Regions from separate parts of the Homo sapiens genome. Here region 2 is reported to be linked to region 1. The links are microRNA targets in miRTarBase. Many come from high-throughput screens and were not tested one by one. Region 1 holds a microRNA gene; the other region holds the end of a gene's coding sequence.
What was found. Region 1 holds the annotated microRNA hsa-miR-149-3p (AGGGAGGGACGGGGGCUGUGC, at 4,765-4,785, shown strand). A microRNA usually pairs through its seed, bases 2 to 8, with sites in the 3' UTR of a target mRNA and lowers its output. Matches are read on the target gene's strand: a 7mer-m8 pairs with bases 2 to 8, a 7mer-A1 pairs with bases 2 to 7 and ends in A, and an 8mer does both.

Region 1 (7,112 bases):
TGTGGCTGCTGCGTCCCCTTCTGCGTTTCTAGCGTGCCCCCTGTGGGTGTAGCAGACAGGGAGGGCCAGTCCATCTTCCAGGCCTCCTTGGGTGCCTGTGGCCCCTGCAGTGGGTGTACGGGAAGCTAGATGGGAGAGCTGGGCAGAGCCCCAGGAGGACAACCCCACCCTCCCACAGCCTGCCTGAATTTCCACCCTGCTGGCAGGGTTGGGCATAGAGATGTGAGTGCCCTCTTCAGCTCCACCAAGCCAAGGAGGAGAAAGGCTGAGCCAGGCCTGGGGGCACGGCCTCTGGGGAGCACCTCATCCTGGGTTCGAAGAGTGGGCTCTGCCTTACAGCCAAGACACCGGGTCCTGGGTGTGGCAGGAGGTTCGTGACACAAATTCTGAATCCCCTTTCATCCCCAGTCTGAGGCCACAGCATGAGCCTCAGACAGTGGAGCAGGCTGGCATGGGGGGAGGCCTGCACAGGGCACGCGGCTTCTTGGCCCGAGCTGTGACTAGGCTCCCATCTGATGGACCCCTGCCGTCGTGCCATGCCAGGGCCGGCACCGCCCAGACCTGGCGTCTGCCGGCAGGATGGCCTGCTCAGGGGTTCCCCAAGCAGGATCTGGGCAGCTTAGAGAGCAGTCTTATGAGTTGCCTGGTGAAAGCCCCGTCTTTGGGGGTCTCCGGTGTTGTGGCCTGCCTTGGTGGTCTGTCCAGCAGCTCTCAGTGTGCCCATTGCAGACCGGCCGAGAGGCCGGAGTGCGGCCAGAGGGGAACTGGTGTGAGTGGGTGGTTTTGTCTGGCTGGGTCAGCAGGCCTGGGGAAGGTGGGGAGCTGGGCCGGGACAGTGGGAGCCACGCAGGACCTGGGCTGCAGGGAGGGGAGGGTGTTGGCGGGAGGCTGTCCCTCTGGTGTCCAAGGAGGGGCCAGAGGCGCACAGCATAGACCTCCCAGGCTGGGGGCACCTGGGTGGGAGACTTGGTGGAAGGATGTGGCCTGTTGGGTTTGGTATGTCAGAGGGAAAGCAGGTCAGGATATAGGGGCAGGGGGGTCTGGAGTCAAGGCCCGGGTGCCATTGGACTGGGGGCTGGAGGGGGCAGGTAGAGGATGTGGAATGACCATGGCAGCTTTGCGTGAGGACAGCGGTGGTCAGCTGCCACCTTCAGCACAGAGAGAAACCCGACACCCCGCCCCCATTACCCTCCGGGGAGGGGCCCCGGCTCCCCCGAGCGCCGGCCCTGCTGAGACCCAGGAGCCCCTGCACCAAGGCCTGGGCCCGCTTAGCTGCAGTGGGGAGCCTAGGAGGCCCGGACTGCCCGCGGAGAACAGGAGCAGCACCCGCAGGCGGGAGGGAGGGGCCCGGCCTCGGCGGCGGGCAGGAAGGCGGGCGCAGGGCGGCGGGGACCTGGCCGGAGGGGCCGGGGCGGCCGCCTGCGGTTTCCAGGGAGACGGGGGCGGTGCCGAGCGCGGCGGGGCGGGGGCTGCGGGAGGACGCTCGTCCCCGCGCCGGGAGCCACCGCCCTCGGCCGTGCGCGCCAGTGCGGCTGCGGCGCTGCCCGGGGTGGCTGCGGCCAGAGTCTCCCGCGCGCCCGGCGGACCGCAGCCCGCCCTCGTCCCCCGCTGGCTTTTCGCCTCCTGCGAGCCCTTCCGCCCGGCCCCGCTCCGCCGCCTTTCCCCGGCCCGAGCACCTGCACCCAGAGCCCGCGCGCCGCCCGGAGCCGCTGGAGCCGCCGCTGCGAAGGGGGTCCCGCGTCCGCCGCCGCGCTGGAAGCCAGGCCCGAGGACCTCTCCCGCAGCGCCACCGTACCCGCATCCGCAGGCGCGCCACCCCCATCTCCACCCGCTCCTCGTCCCCACCGCCTCTGTCCCATCCTCCGCTCCGTCCTGCCCCGCTTGGCCGCCGCAGCCCCATCCCCTTTCCGCCCCTCCTGTCGGGAGTCCGTGGCCCGTCCCCAGTCCCACCCCACCCGTCGCCCCAGCTGCACCTACCCCTACCCCTCCCGGGCCGCATCCCGGCGTCCCCGCCCCGCTCCCACCGCCCGCCCCGCTCCCACCGCCCGCCCCGCTCCCACCGCCCGCCCCGCTCCCTCCGCCCGCCCCGCTCCCTCCGCCCGCCCCGCTCCCTCCGCCCGCCCCGCTCCCTCCGCCCGCCCCGCTCCCTCCGCCCGCCCCGCTCCCGCATCGCCTGCCGCCGCCCCGGGGCCCCCCTTCCTCTTCCGCCAGGCCCATCCCCCTCCCCGGGCCGTCGCAGCCCTTCGAGCCCCCTCCCCCACCCCCGTGCCTGCCGCACCCGCTGCGACAAGCCCCTTCCCCGCCAATCGCGGCGCCCCCCTCCCCTCGCCTGCCCGCCGCAGCCCCCTCTCCCCGCCCGCCCCCTTCCCTCCCCGCCGCGCCCACTGCACCAGTGCCCCCTCCTCGCCGGGCCGCCGGCGCTGCTGCGTGTCCAGACCCCTGCGCACCCGCTCCGGCTGCGCGGTTTGCCGTCTTCGTCCCTGGCCGCGGCGGCTGGCGACTGGCATCGGGGCGCCCGGGACCCCCAGGGCGGCGACGCTGCCGCCGGTGCCGCCGAGCCTTTGTTCCGCCGCCGGGGCCGGTTTCACGCCTGTCGCCCTCGCAAGCAGCCGCGGGTGACAGGAGCCTTAGCCGGCCTGGGGCGCGGACCCTCCCACCCGGGGCAGAGGTGTCCCTACGACGCCCCTCGGTTTCGGGTCGCAGTGCGCGGCGGAGGTTCTGCGGCGGCGGAGGGGCTCCTTGGCGACGCTGTCATTTGGGTGAAATGGTGGCGGGGGGGCTTCGGGCAGACGGCAGGGGTGTGGGGAGGGGAGGGAAGCACGATGGGGTGAGTCTGGGGGCCGTGGATGCCGTTGACGAGGAGCTGAGATGCCGTGGCCGGTCCACCTCGCAGGTGGGGCCAAGGCTGCCTCTGGCTCAGACGTCAGGAGCCCAGGCGGACAGGGACTGGCCAGGGGCGCAGGCTTCTTAGAGGATGGGGCAAAAGTGAGGAAAAGATCCTCTGCAGCCTGGGCAGTGGGTGGTCCCCAGGAAACCCCCTGGGTCGTTTGTCCAGTGCACCCTCACCCCAGGAGGCTGCTGGACGTGCCGGAGGATGCCACAGCCACCGGAGCTGGTTGGGGTCCGAGAGCAGATGGGCCAGGGGCTGGGGCAGGCTTCGAGAAGAGGGTTCGGGCTTGGGGAAAGCCTTCGCAGCCATCGGCCAGCCAGGAAGGCCCCGTTGCCGGGTGCAGAGCTGAGTAGAGGGCAGGAGCGGGGAGGCCTAGGCTCTTCCCTTGCGTGTTGGGGGGCTGCGGTGCCTGGAGCTCTGCACACAGCCCTACTCCAGCACCGTGGGAGGCAATGCAGGCTGACTGTCCACGCCAAATTCCGGTACCTTAGGCATTCGAGTCTGTTGACACTGAGTGTCTAGGACGAGGCTGTAAAGGTGGATAAAGCCGGCTTTACAGTCTGCACCTCCTGTGTGAGCCGTGGAAGCTTCTGGAGGGATGGGCGTGGCGTGGCGCCATCATCTCTCTGCATTCTCCTTGGGAGGGCTCCAGAGCCACTGGTCACGGGCAGCTGCCAGGCTGGGTCTGGACAAATGAGGTCTGGGTCCATCATTGGGGATGGGGGCCACTGTCAGGATGGGAGTCTCGCCTAAAGCTTTGGGGTGAAGGTGCTGATGACCAAGAGGAAACTGCGGGGTGGGGACATGTCAGCAGGGGACGAGAATGCATGACCTAAAAGGTATCCAAAGTTAAGGCTGGTGGGGGCTTAGTGAGGAGCAGCAGAGTGGGGTGGTCCAGAACCGTCAGGATCGGGAGGGGGAAGATGGAACGAGACAGCAGCTGCCTACGAGCCAGGGAGCAAGAGCTCTGTGCTTTAACCTGAGGAGCAGGAGCCTGGGAACTGGAGACTCTGGGTTTGAGGTGGGGGATGAATCTGCCATTAAACAAATAATCCCCTTCCCCCCCAAAAAAATCCTCAGAGCACTGGGGAAGGGAAGTGTCCCAGTGACTGAGGGAGGGGAGCGCTGTGGAAGGATGGGTCGGCTACAGCAACTTCAGCCCAGGGATCAGGGAAGAGAGGGTCCAGTCCCTGGCCCAGCGGGGAGCAGGCCCGGTGACCTTGACCTGAGCAGCCCCAGGGCCAGAGGGAGGGGTGGGCCGGAAGGGCCCAGATGCCTCCCTGCACGGGGGGAAGGGGATGGGCTGCCGGGACTCACCCCCTAGGTTGGAAAATGCCTCCCTCTGGGTTGGAGGAGGAGAAAGGCCAGGAAGGAGAGGGAGAGGGACATGGGGAGGGTTCCCTCCTGGCCTGAGGCCTCTCTATCCCCAGGTGTTGAGCTGAGAGAAGTGGTGGGGAGGCCCCTGGGGGTGGGGAGGCCCCTGGGTGGGGAGATTTAAGATGACAGCTGGTCTTGGGCACATTGCTCTCCATTCAGAAAGGCCCCAGCCCCTGGCATTCTTCCAGGAGGGGGCTTGCTTTGCCGCCCTGCAGGGGGACTCTGCAGAGCCGGCCTCTGCCATCTCATGTCCAGGACCACAACCTGTGGCCCCGGCCTGCGCCGGGCCGGAGCTCCGCAGAAGGAAGCCAGCGGGAGGCCTCCTGCCTTTGACTGCCGTGCGTCCAGCCTGCAGCGGGCCTCAGGGGGCCGCCTCGATCCAGCCTGCCCGAGGCTCCCAGGCCTTCGCCCGCCTTGCGTCCAGCCTGCCGGGGGCTCCCAGGCCGGCGCCCGAGCTCTGGCTCCGTGTCTTCACTCCCGTGCTTGTCCGAGGAGGGAGGGAGGGACGGGGGCTGTGCTGGGGCAGCTGGAACAACGCAGGTCGCCGGGCCGGCTGGGCGAGTTGGCCGGGCGGGGCTGAGGGGTCGGCGGGGGAGGCTGAGGCGCGGGGGCCGGTGCGCGGCCGTGAGGGGGTGTGAGAGGTGGCTGACGGCGCCGAGGAGCCCCTCAGAACCTGCAGGTGGGGGGAGCTCCCATATCTTACGGGTGTTTCGGGCCTCACCTCTCCATGCCTCTCGTCAGCCTCTCCCGTCTGCGTGGTGGGGGCTGGGGAGTGGGTCCGCCGGGACCTCGCGAGGGAGGGGCACAGGAGGAGCCGGCGGGGGACGCCACCCACCCTCCTCCCTAGGAGTGCTTGAGCCCTAGTCCTGAGTCTTGGACCAGCTCACTCGGTTCCTGTGGCCCAGCCAGCCTGGCCTGGGTGCCCCGTCACAGCTGAGCCCATCTCAGCTGAGCCCAGGGTGTGTCACCGGGAAGCTCAGCTGGCACCTGCCACCCCCTCCCCCAGGCACGTTTCCCTCCCACTGCCCAGCCCATTACCATCATGTGTCCGGCTGACCTGTGCTCTCCTGGTCTGGGCAGCCTGGATGGGTGCACAGGGCCCCATCACAGCCCACACCCTCGGAGAGACGCCTCCTGAGTCTGCTCAGCCTGGCACAGGCCCCAGGAAAGGACCCGGAGGGGCGGTTCCTGCTCTAAATCCTGCCCCCACGGGGGTGGGACTGGGGCAGAATCCCATCAGTGAATAAAGGCTGCAGAGTGAAGGATGGTCCCTGGCGAGTGTACCTGTGTCCCAGTCTTCTTGCCTGAGGGCGCCTTCCCACCCATGTGAGGAGTGGGGAAGGAGCACCCCTTCTCTACTAGGCCCCAGGGCTCTCAGAGCCGGGCTCTGTCCTCACCCCAGCTGGCTCCCACAAGGCCCTCCTGGCCCCAGACTCTGTTGGACCCCCAACTCCCCCTCCAGCAGGCATCTGGAGGTAAGGAGGGGCGGGGGGCGCAGGTGCACTTGCCATTCCCGCTCTGTCTGCAGCATGGGCACATGTAAGTCCAGGCCCTGGGGAATCCCTGGACCTGCAGCCCCTGCGGAGGACTCCCTCCCCCTCTAGCTCAAGCCAGAGCCCCCTGCATCAGTACATTCCAGAACTCAGACAGGAAAAGAGGGCAAGGAGGGAGCGCTCCAGGATAAGAACCCCTACCTCGGCCCTCCCTCGCTCTCCCAGGCCCCTCTGACAACCTGTCTCCTTGCTGTCATGTCAGCAGGCACAGAGGCTACAGGGGCCAAGCGGCAGCCGCCCAAGCCCGGATTCGGGTTCTCTGTTCCCTTCTCTTGTCTCGGGCTCCTCCCTGAGTGTGTGTACTTAGAGGGTGCGGAAGATCAGCAAACTCAGTCTGACCCAGGCATTCAACCTCTGGGTAGTTACCTAGTCCTGGGTCCCCACCCCAGATGGCCTCTAGTGGGTAAGGGCTTCCTGGACCCCAGGCCTGAGGGGTGACTTCTCTTGCAGTAAGCGGGTAGGGCACTGCCTGCGCTGCTCCAGGCCCTGCCTGCAGTGGGGCTACAGATCCCTGCTCCCACCTCCAGGCAGGGCTGGAGCTGCTGCCAGCTCCCCCAGGACAGCCTCGAGCCAGGTGCCTCTGCCCGGGCTGACCCCGCCCTCGGTCCCGGTCCTGGCTCCCTCTCCTGCCTCTCCTCCCTGGCCTGGCCTTCACTTCCTGCTGACCCTCAGGAGGGCGTAAAAGAATGCAGGACCTGCTGCATTCCAGCCACCCTGGCCCAGGGTCCCAGAACAGGATGAGACAGGCCCCTGAGGCGGCAGTCCTGAGGAAAGTTGCTGGAATTCCTGCTGACAACGCCCCCCCTTGACCCCACCCCTCTGACCAAGCCAGGCTCCTGCTTCCACCTCTCCACTGTGCCTGACCTAGGCCAGCACCAGGAGGGCCTTAGAGGCGGGGGACGAGGCCCAGAAGGAACAGTGTGGCCCCGTCAGTGTGGAGTCCTGAGCTTAGGCAGCCGGAACCACTTGCCCCCTCACTGTATAGCTGGGACGAGACCTCATCCCTGTAAGCCCCGGTTTTCTGGTTAATAAAATGAGGATTGCGGCAGCCTTCATCACAGTGCGATGCACACCCTTTAAAAAATGCAGTTTTTCCTGATGCCACACACCCATTCCAGGTGGGCCCTGAGGTGTGCACAGCAGGGCTGAGAGCTGACTCAAAGCCTGTCCTGTCCCCACTCCCCACAAGGAGGTGAAGCTGTCTCTGATGGCAGTGCCGCTGTCACTGCCTCGGACGCTGGAGCAGAGTAGCTCATGGCAGGCTGCAGAGGAGGGGACTCCACAAGGACACC
Region 2 (7,112 bases), not on the chromosome of region 1:
ACATCCTGGGCCGGCCCGTGGGCGCGGCGGGCGGGGGCCTCCTGGGGGGGCTGCCCCGGCTCAACGGGCTCGCGTCGTCCGCCGGCGTTTACTTCGGGCCCGCGGCCGCTGTGGCGCGCGGCTACCCCAAGCCCCTGGCCGAGCTGCCGGGGCGCCCGCCCATCTTCTGGCCCGGCGTGGTGCAGGGCGCGCCCTGGAGGGACCCGCGTCTGGCTGGCCCGGGTGAGTGGCCCGCGCGGGGGGTGCGGGGCGGGTGGGCGCGGAGGGGGACCCCGCCGGCCGCTGACCTCCCTCCCTTCCCCTCCCTTGCAGCCCCGGCCGGCGGCGTCCTGGACAAGGACGGGAAGAAGAAGCACTCGCGCCCGACCTTCTCGGGCCAGCAGATCTTCGCGCTGGAGAAAACCTTCGAGCAGACCAAGTACCTGGCGGGCCCGGAGCGCGCGCGTCTCGCCTACTCGCTGGGCATGACCGAGAGCCAGGTGAAGGTGAGCGCGGCGGGGCTCGGGAGAGCAGAGCCGGGGGCCCGCGTCCTGCGAACGGCCCCAGCGCCAGCCCCGGGCCCCGCGGCCGCCTGACCGCCCCGTCCACTCCCAGGTCTGGTTCCAGAACCGCCGGACCAAGTGGCGCAAGCGGCACGCGGTGGAGATGGCGTCGGCCAAGAAGAAGCAGGACTCGGACGCCGAGAAGCTGAAGGTGGGCGGCTCGGACGCGGAGGACGACGACGAATACAACCGGCCCCTGGACCCCAACTCGGACGACGAGAAGATCACGCGGCTGCTCAAGAAGCACAAACCCTCGAACTTGGCGCTGGTCAGCCCGTGCGGCGGCGGCGCGGGGGACGCCTTGTGAGGACCCGCGGGGTGGGGGCGAATCTATTTTTGCAGAATCCGGGGGCGGCCCCGGGTGGGCGCGAGTCGCTTTGTATCATCAATAAATTATTTAACGGGTCCCCGTCGGAGCCGTCGCTCCGGAGCCTGCGCCGCGTGTTTCTTCCGTCTCGAACCCGGAGCGAGGCGGCCCCTCCCCGGCCCCGGCTTCGCCCCTGCGCCCGCCTCGGGTCCTCCGGGTTCCCGGTGCGGAGGCTGCGGGCCCCGGGCAGGCGCGAGGAGGCGGCGAAGGCGCAGGGAAGGGGCCCGGCCCGCGGGAAGGAACCGCAGCGACAGCCGCCAGGAGCCCGGGACGGAGCCGGGGACGGAGCAGCAGGTACGGCCCGGCCCGCCTCGCCTCGGGGCGGATTCGGACGCGCTTGGGGGTTCCCGAAAGGGCGGGTGAGCCGCGTACCCGCCTCGAGTCCCCGCGGGAGGTTTTTCTTCTTCCGTTTTCCCGCTTTGGGGCCACGTACTCGTTGCCACCGGGCACCCGTTCCCGCTTGGCCGAGGGCTTCGCTCTGATTATTTCCAAAGTCCCTCTGCGCATCAGCGGATCCCATAGGCCCGCCCTGGGCTCAGCCGGTGGAACCGGGTCTGATCCGCTGCACGGAGGCCCTTCGGTCACCATCCCGCCAGATCTTCCCGCGGTGGAAAGCAGTTTCTTCCGAACTAGGACCGCAAAGAGAAATCCGAAATAATTCCGCCCGCGGAGCGGCGGGGCCTCCCGTGGGTCACGCGGGGTCAGGGAGCCGGAGGCCCCCTGGGCAAGGCCCGCAGCGCCCAGCCGGGGGCTCGGGGGACCCGTCTCCTGCCCTGAAATGCCGCCAGCTCCGCGGGGCTGTGACTGCGGCTGACAAAACCCCTCCAGCCTCCCGCAGCCTCTGTGGCCGGGGCTGCCCATCGCTGCATCTTAATGGGCGTGGCTGTTGAGTTTTAATTTTTAAAAATTAAATGTAAATAATGATATCACTGCGGTGGTACGATTTCTCTTGGCATTTGCGGAAGCGTTAAAGGGAAATAGAAAGGGCTTAAACTCGGCGCGTTTTGTTTTAGGCTCTTAGCAGCCTTCTTTACAAGGAAGCAACTCGAAGGGCAGAAGCAACGCTTTTCTGTGGGGAGCCCCTCTCAGCTCAGAGCAGAGGGGCTTCTTAAAGTTTTGAGGAAGGCAAAGCGTTGATATAATCCCGTTTTAAAATGTTGAGGGATAAATCCTTTATTACAGTAGAAAGTCCAAAAGGCTGTGTTTCTCCTCTCAATGAACGGCTTAGTGTTTTGTGACAGCGTGTGATACAGTGAAATTCCAGGATTTCTAATGAGCTTGATCTCAAATAACAGGCTATACAGGAGGCCGCTCCCCTGAGTTAGCATTTCAAAGGTGGCAGGAGAAGGGAAAGGAAGAAAAAGCAACACGGGACTATTTTCACCACGGTCAATTTTATTGCTTAGGAACCAGACCGGTCACTTCCAAAGGCCCCTCAGAACGACCAACAGCTGAAACCCGCGGGGCGGACTCCGTGTTGAACCGCGGACAGCGGCAACCACAGCAGCGACACGGACCTGTGCTTCCACCAAGAACAGATTCCGCAGCGGACAGCAGTCACTTGCAGTGGTAGTATTTATCCCACACAAACACCCAGCTAATGCCTTCACCCGGTCCAGGAACTCTGTAGTGTTCTAAAGTAAAATCAATAAAACATACATTTGTGTTTCATCAACAGACTCTCTAATCACCTTCTAATGCTGTACTTACTGCTATAGGAGAAAAATATTTGCAACAAGGTTATGACATGGGTTGTCTGTAGCGGAGCAATGAGGAAATGTACAGTTTTGTTTCTCTTTAATATTTTTATATACAGCCCATGTTAAAAGCAGTTTCTATTGGAAGCAAACTAGGCTATTTCTATTTCTCCCATGATATTATTGTTGTAACGTAGGATACTTGGCACCATAAAACAGTAACAAAAGACAGACAAACGGTTTACAAAATTCTTAAAAGGTACACCCAGGCTAGCTATAAACTTCACATTCAGTTCTTAATATTACACAGAAGAACGGCATGGGAGTAACGGCCCGCTGGTGCAGACGTGCTGTGGGGCCGATTTTACCCACGATGGCGAGGCCATGTGTGTTTTTTACGAATTTGTGTGTTGATGGACACACAGCTGAGCTCCTAGACTCCAATGCCGCCTGCTGATGGGACTCTCCTGTGCGTTCATACTGGAAAGTATATTTAGCATAAGTTTTGGTAAGATTTATAAATTATTTTTAAAAAGTATATATTTATATATATTTATATATATATAAAAATGGAAAGCAGCTGCAGTGTGATTCAAAAACCATGTGACACGGCGCAGAGTCAGTGCCGCGGAAGGAGCATCGGCAGAGACAGACCCCCTTGCCATGCTCAGGGCCACGCTGCCGGCCGGCAGAGGGAGTGCCCGTCTCGGCTTCCCCAGCCCCTGGACACACCTCCACCTGGCAGAGGGGGTCCCTGGACACAGTGGGGGGTCTCTGTGCTGAAGAAGCCCCTCCACTGGCAATCATTAAAAACTGAAAACTGTGAAGTCTACGGTACAGACCCTCTTTGCTGTCTATTAGAGTTTTGACAACAGGACTGTGACTTATTTAAAAAAAAAAAAAAAAAACCAATATTTCTACTTAATGTCACATAGACAGACGAGACAGTGAGGTATGTGAGGCTGCTCCGGAATGGTCCGGAGGCTGAAGCGAAGTGTGGGGCTGGCCGTCTAGCAGGTGGCGCTTGGGCGGGTTCTCGATGCAGCTTTCAAGAGTGCGTATTCGGTCCACGGCTACAGGGAGGCTCACGAAGTGTCCTCTCGTGGCGCTGGCATCTCTTCCCTGTCACGGAATTCGTAATTTGTTAAAGGAACAAACGCACCAGGAAAAGCTGCGTAAAAGCTGAACTGGAGGGAGGAGTCATATTTACCACCACGTCACTGCACGACACAACACTTGTGCACATGGGCATGAGGTTTACCTGCCCCGGGCATGATTCGGAAGGCCAGGAACACGGGCTGCAGCAGGAAGAGAGGACGGTGTCAGCACGGCGCACGCGGGACAGCACAGCACATGCCGCCGCCTCCCGTTGCACCCCCAGACCCTGCGTCTCACCAGGGCAGCCATGAACCGGGCTGGGAGGAGCTGATGGCCAGCAGAGGCAGCTCGGCCCTTGTGCACAGCCACGGCAGCGCAGGGGTTGGGGGCCCCGTGAATGTGGAACTGGAGCCAGGCCGGCCATGAGAGGTTTTGCAAGGAAGGTGTTATTTCCAGGTAAAAAAATTAATGGAAAAACTGATGTAAAAGAATGGCTAAATAGGCCCCAAATGAAGCGGGGAAGGAAGGCTCTCCCGTCCTCGGCTCTGCCGCACCTGGCAGGTCCAGCGTCTTATCCGGGTGTGTTTGGGGCTCACAGCTCTGGGCCTCCAACGTGGAAGAAGCTAACTCATTTATTGGCTGAAAATGAGATTTGATCTGTCTCCTGTGCACACTCTCGAGGTGCAGTTGCCTGAATAAACGATCTGTGCCAGTGCTGCCCCTTGGCACACGGTGGGGAGCGCCCTCACCCCGGCTCCTCGGCTGACAGTGAGCCTGCCCCAAGAAGGCCATTAAAACACTGAAGCTGCATATTTGCAAAACAGCCTTCAGAAACAATCAGCTGTGGACATTTTTTTACAAATATTAAATTATGTATTTTATTCTATTGTAACGTCATTTCTGCCTTCTTCCTACTTACCCACCTAGCTTATGATATTTTATTAAAATTAAATAAAAACAGACCAACTTGGCCTACTCTGTAGTCAGACTAAGAAGACAGGAGAACAGGAGAGGAGAGACTGGCCAACCCCCGCCCACCTGCCTGCCAGCCCCAGCACCCGCCCACCCACTGGCCCCAGCCCCCCGGCCCCCTAGCTTCCCCTTGGTCCCCCAGCCTGGCCCCTGGACCTCAGTCTATGTCACCTTGTGGTCTCCCATGCAGACGTTGGGCCCAATGTGGTCATAGGTGACAACCTTCTCCTCGCTCTCCGACTGGAAAGGGGAAACAGACAGGTGAGTGTGGGGAGGTGGGGCACCCTGGGTCCAGTTGGGAGCTGACTGGCAGGAACATCAGGGTTTTGTGGGGGCAGAGAGATGGGGATGTCGGCCCCTGCCAGTACCTCCCCAGCCTCTGCCACCCGCCCTGCCTGGCCCCTGAGAGAGAGGCCAGCTCATGGACCAAAGGCTCTGGTGATGTGGCAGCGCCTCAGCACCTTGACCCTGGCCCTTTTGGACAACAGGTATCTGCCTCTAGGAGGGGTCGCGTGGGGAGCCGCGGGTGCTGGCCCGGCTCCCAAGCTCCCCTCTCCCGGACATGCTCCTGGGCTCTCAGGGGAGTTGCAGGGGACCCTGTTCACAGGAGTGTGTGCGCCCCAGCTTTCTGTGCAGGTGTGCTCCTCTGAGTGCGGCAGCCCATCTAGTTCCAATCTTCCCACTTTGATTTGTTTTTGACTGTTCTATTAACCTAGAACTCAGTGTTCAAACGAGAACAGACACCGAATTCCACACCACTACACAAAGCAATCTGTGCACAGTAATTCACGGCTGTGTGCGCACTTCCCAGCAGGTGCCTGTATTCCGGGCGCCTCCGGAAGGGGTTTGCTGCTGGTCAGCACTCGGCTCTGGTTGGGCTGGAATTTTATATCCACAGCTGGAGCATCTGAGACTATCCAGGTAAAACTGAGTTATCTTTAATGCAGTGGGAAGCTCAAGGTCAGATTTACTTTCCAGCATGGGCGCCTGCCAGAAAGAATGAGAAAACAAGCTTCGGCACCGCATGCATGAGCACCTTCCCGCCTCTCGCGGGTGAAGCGGCGCCTCCGCAGAAGTGGAGAAACATTCATCAAACGCAGCGTGGTAATTTACAAAGGCAGCATAAAATTGTGGATTTTCAACTGCATAATCTTTGGACAGATAAACAAATTACGGCGGGCACAGGCAGCGTGCGGCACACCTCACTGAACACTTGTCACCGAGGCTCCCCAAGCAGCACCGCCCGCGTCCCGAGCCCCTTTTGGTGTTTTAGGGCTCCGGAGGCAGAACGGAGCTTGGTGACGAGGTGACGGCGCGTGTCATGATGGATGAGGCTGCGGAGCGCGCCCGGCGCCCGTCTGCTTGTCCTGCACACCCGCTGCCCACTGGGTGGCCCCATGGGGAGAGCCTGTCCAAACTCCAGCCCCAGAAGGCAGGGGCTGTCAAAGGCCGCCAGGTGTGTGTTGTGAGGCTCTGTCCCCCACCCTGAGCATAAAGTGTCAAGTCCCGGATCCAGAGAACCCGAGAGGCTGTGAGTGAATGGAAAACGGGCTGCAACGCTGCCCTGCTCTGAGCTGGTGGAGCCCTGGCAGCGGCAGCACAATGTGGGGAGGCCACAGCCCTGCCAGCCTTCTGCCCTTGGGCGCTGCTCACCAATCTGCACTCGCGTGACCTCCGACGTTTTCCCAGGGGATGGCATCTGTGCCCGAGTCCCCGGGAGGCTCCTGCCCCGCTGGTGGCAGCCCTGGGCTCCACATGCCTGACCCGCTCTCAGCACTGGCAGATGGGAGCACCCACCATGTGGCACCGAGGGACTGGCGTGCCTACCAGTGAGCCCAGCCAGAGGGGCAGTGGCAGGTCCACAGCCAGGCTCCAGGCCGAGCCCACTCCTGGGCTTTTGGGCTTGTGGCCAGCACACTTTCCTCAATGATGGGCACAGGCCCTGCCCACAGGCCAGAGGTGGGGCTGCGGAGGAGCCAGGCTGGCTGCAGACCCCAGGGACTTCTGGCCAAGGGGCCCCGCCTCCAGCCCAGGCCCCCACCAGGCAGGCTCCTCACAGCACAGCCAGGGACGGAGGGCAGGCTGCACCCAGGGTGCTCCAGGATGTAGGAAGGAACAGTAAGGAACCCGGCCCGGCAGACAGAGCCACATGGCAGAGGCCAGCAGGGTGCATCTCAGGGACCAGGGCTGCAGAGGTCCCCGCCCTGCTGAGGGCACACCTGTACCCAGGTGTTTGCTGTGCCTGGGGTCTGGTGCCGTCTGGCACAGACACAGATGGGCAGTGAGGGACAACTGGAGCCTCACACAGCTGGTGTTGAAGTCGGGGTTAGTAGGGGGCTCCTGTCCCTGCTCTGGGCCTGGGACAGTGGAGAGGGGGCAGAGCCCACCAGGCTGGCAGTGGAACCACCAGAGTCTCCAGCCTCCTTCCGATTGCAC

Region 2: miRTarBase lists NKX6-2 as a target of hsa-miR-149-3p. Seed matches in the 3' UTR shown: 7mer-m8 at 1,019-1,025.

Annotation. Positions count from the first base shown.
Region 1 is chr2:240,451,292-240,458,403 of GRCh38, forward strand. MIR149 (microRNA 149) reads left to right here and starts at 4,710; the gene lies at 4,710-4,798. All of the region lies in intron 1 of GPC1 (glypican 1), which reads left to right. GPC1-AS1 (GPC1 antisense RNA 1) reads right to left here and starts at 5,409. Exons shown (of 3, transcript NR_161169.1): 1 at 5,306-5,409. RefSeq lists a silencer at 1,465-1,514 and enhancers at 4,010-4,660, 6,613-7,112.
Region 2 is chr10:132,778,653-132,785,764 of GRCh38, reverse strand. It overlaps NKX6-2 (NK6 homeobox 2), which reads left to right. Exons shown (of 3, transcript NM_177400.3): 1 at 1-222; 2 at 313-485; 3 at 595-2,584. The coding sequence ends at 849. INPP5A (inositol polyphosphate-5-phosphatase A) reads right to left here. Exons shown (of 16, transcript NM_005539.5): 14 at 4,848-4,916; 15 at 3,817-3,904; 16 at 2,285-3,728. The coding sequence ends at 3,824. Among named protein-coding and RNA genes, the nearest start is that of NKX6-2, 3.9 kb to the left of the region's middle.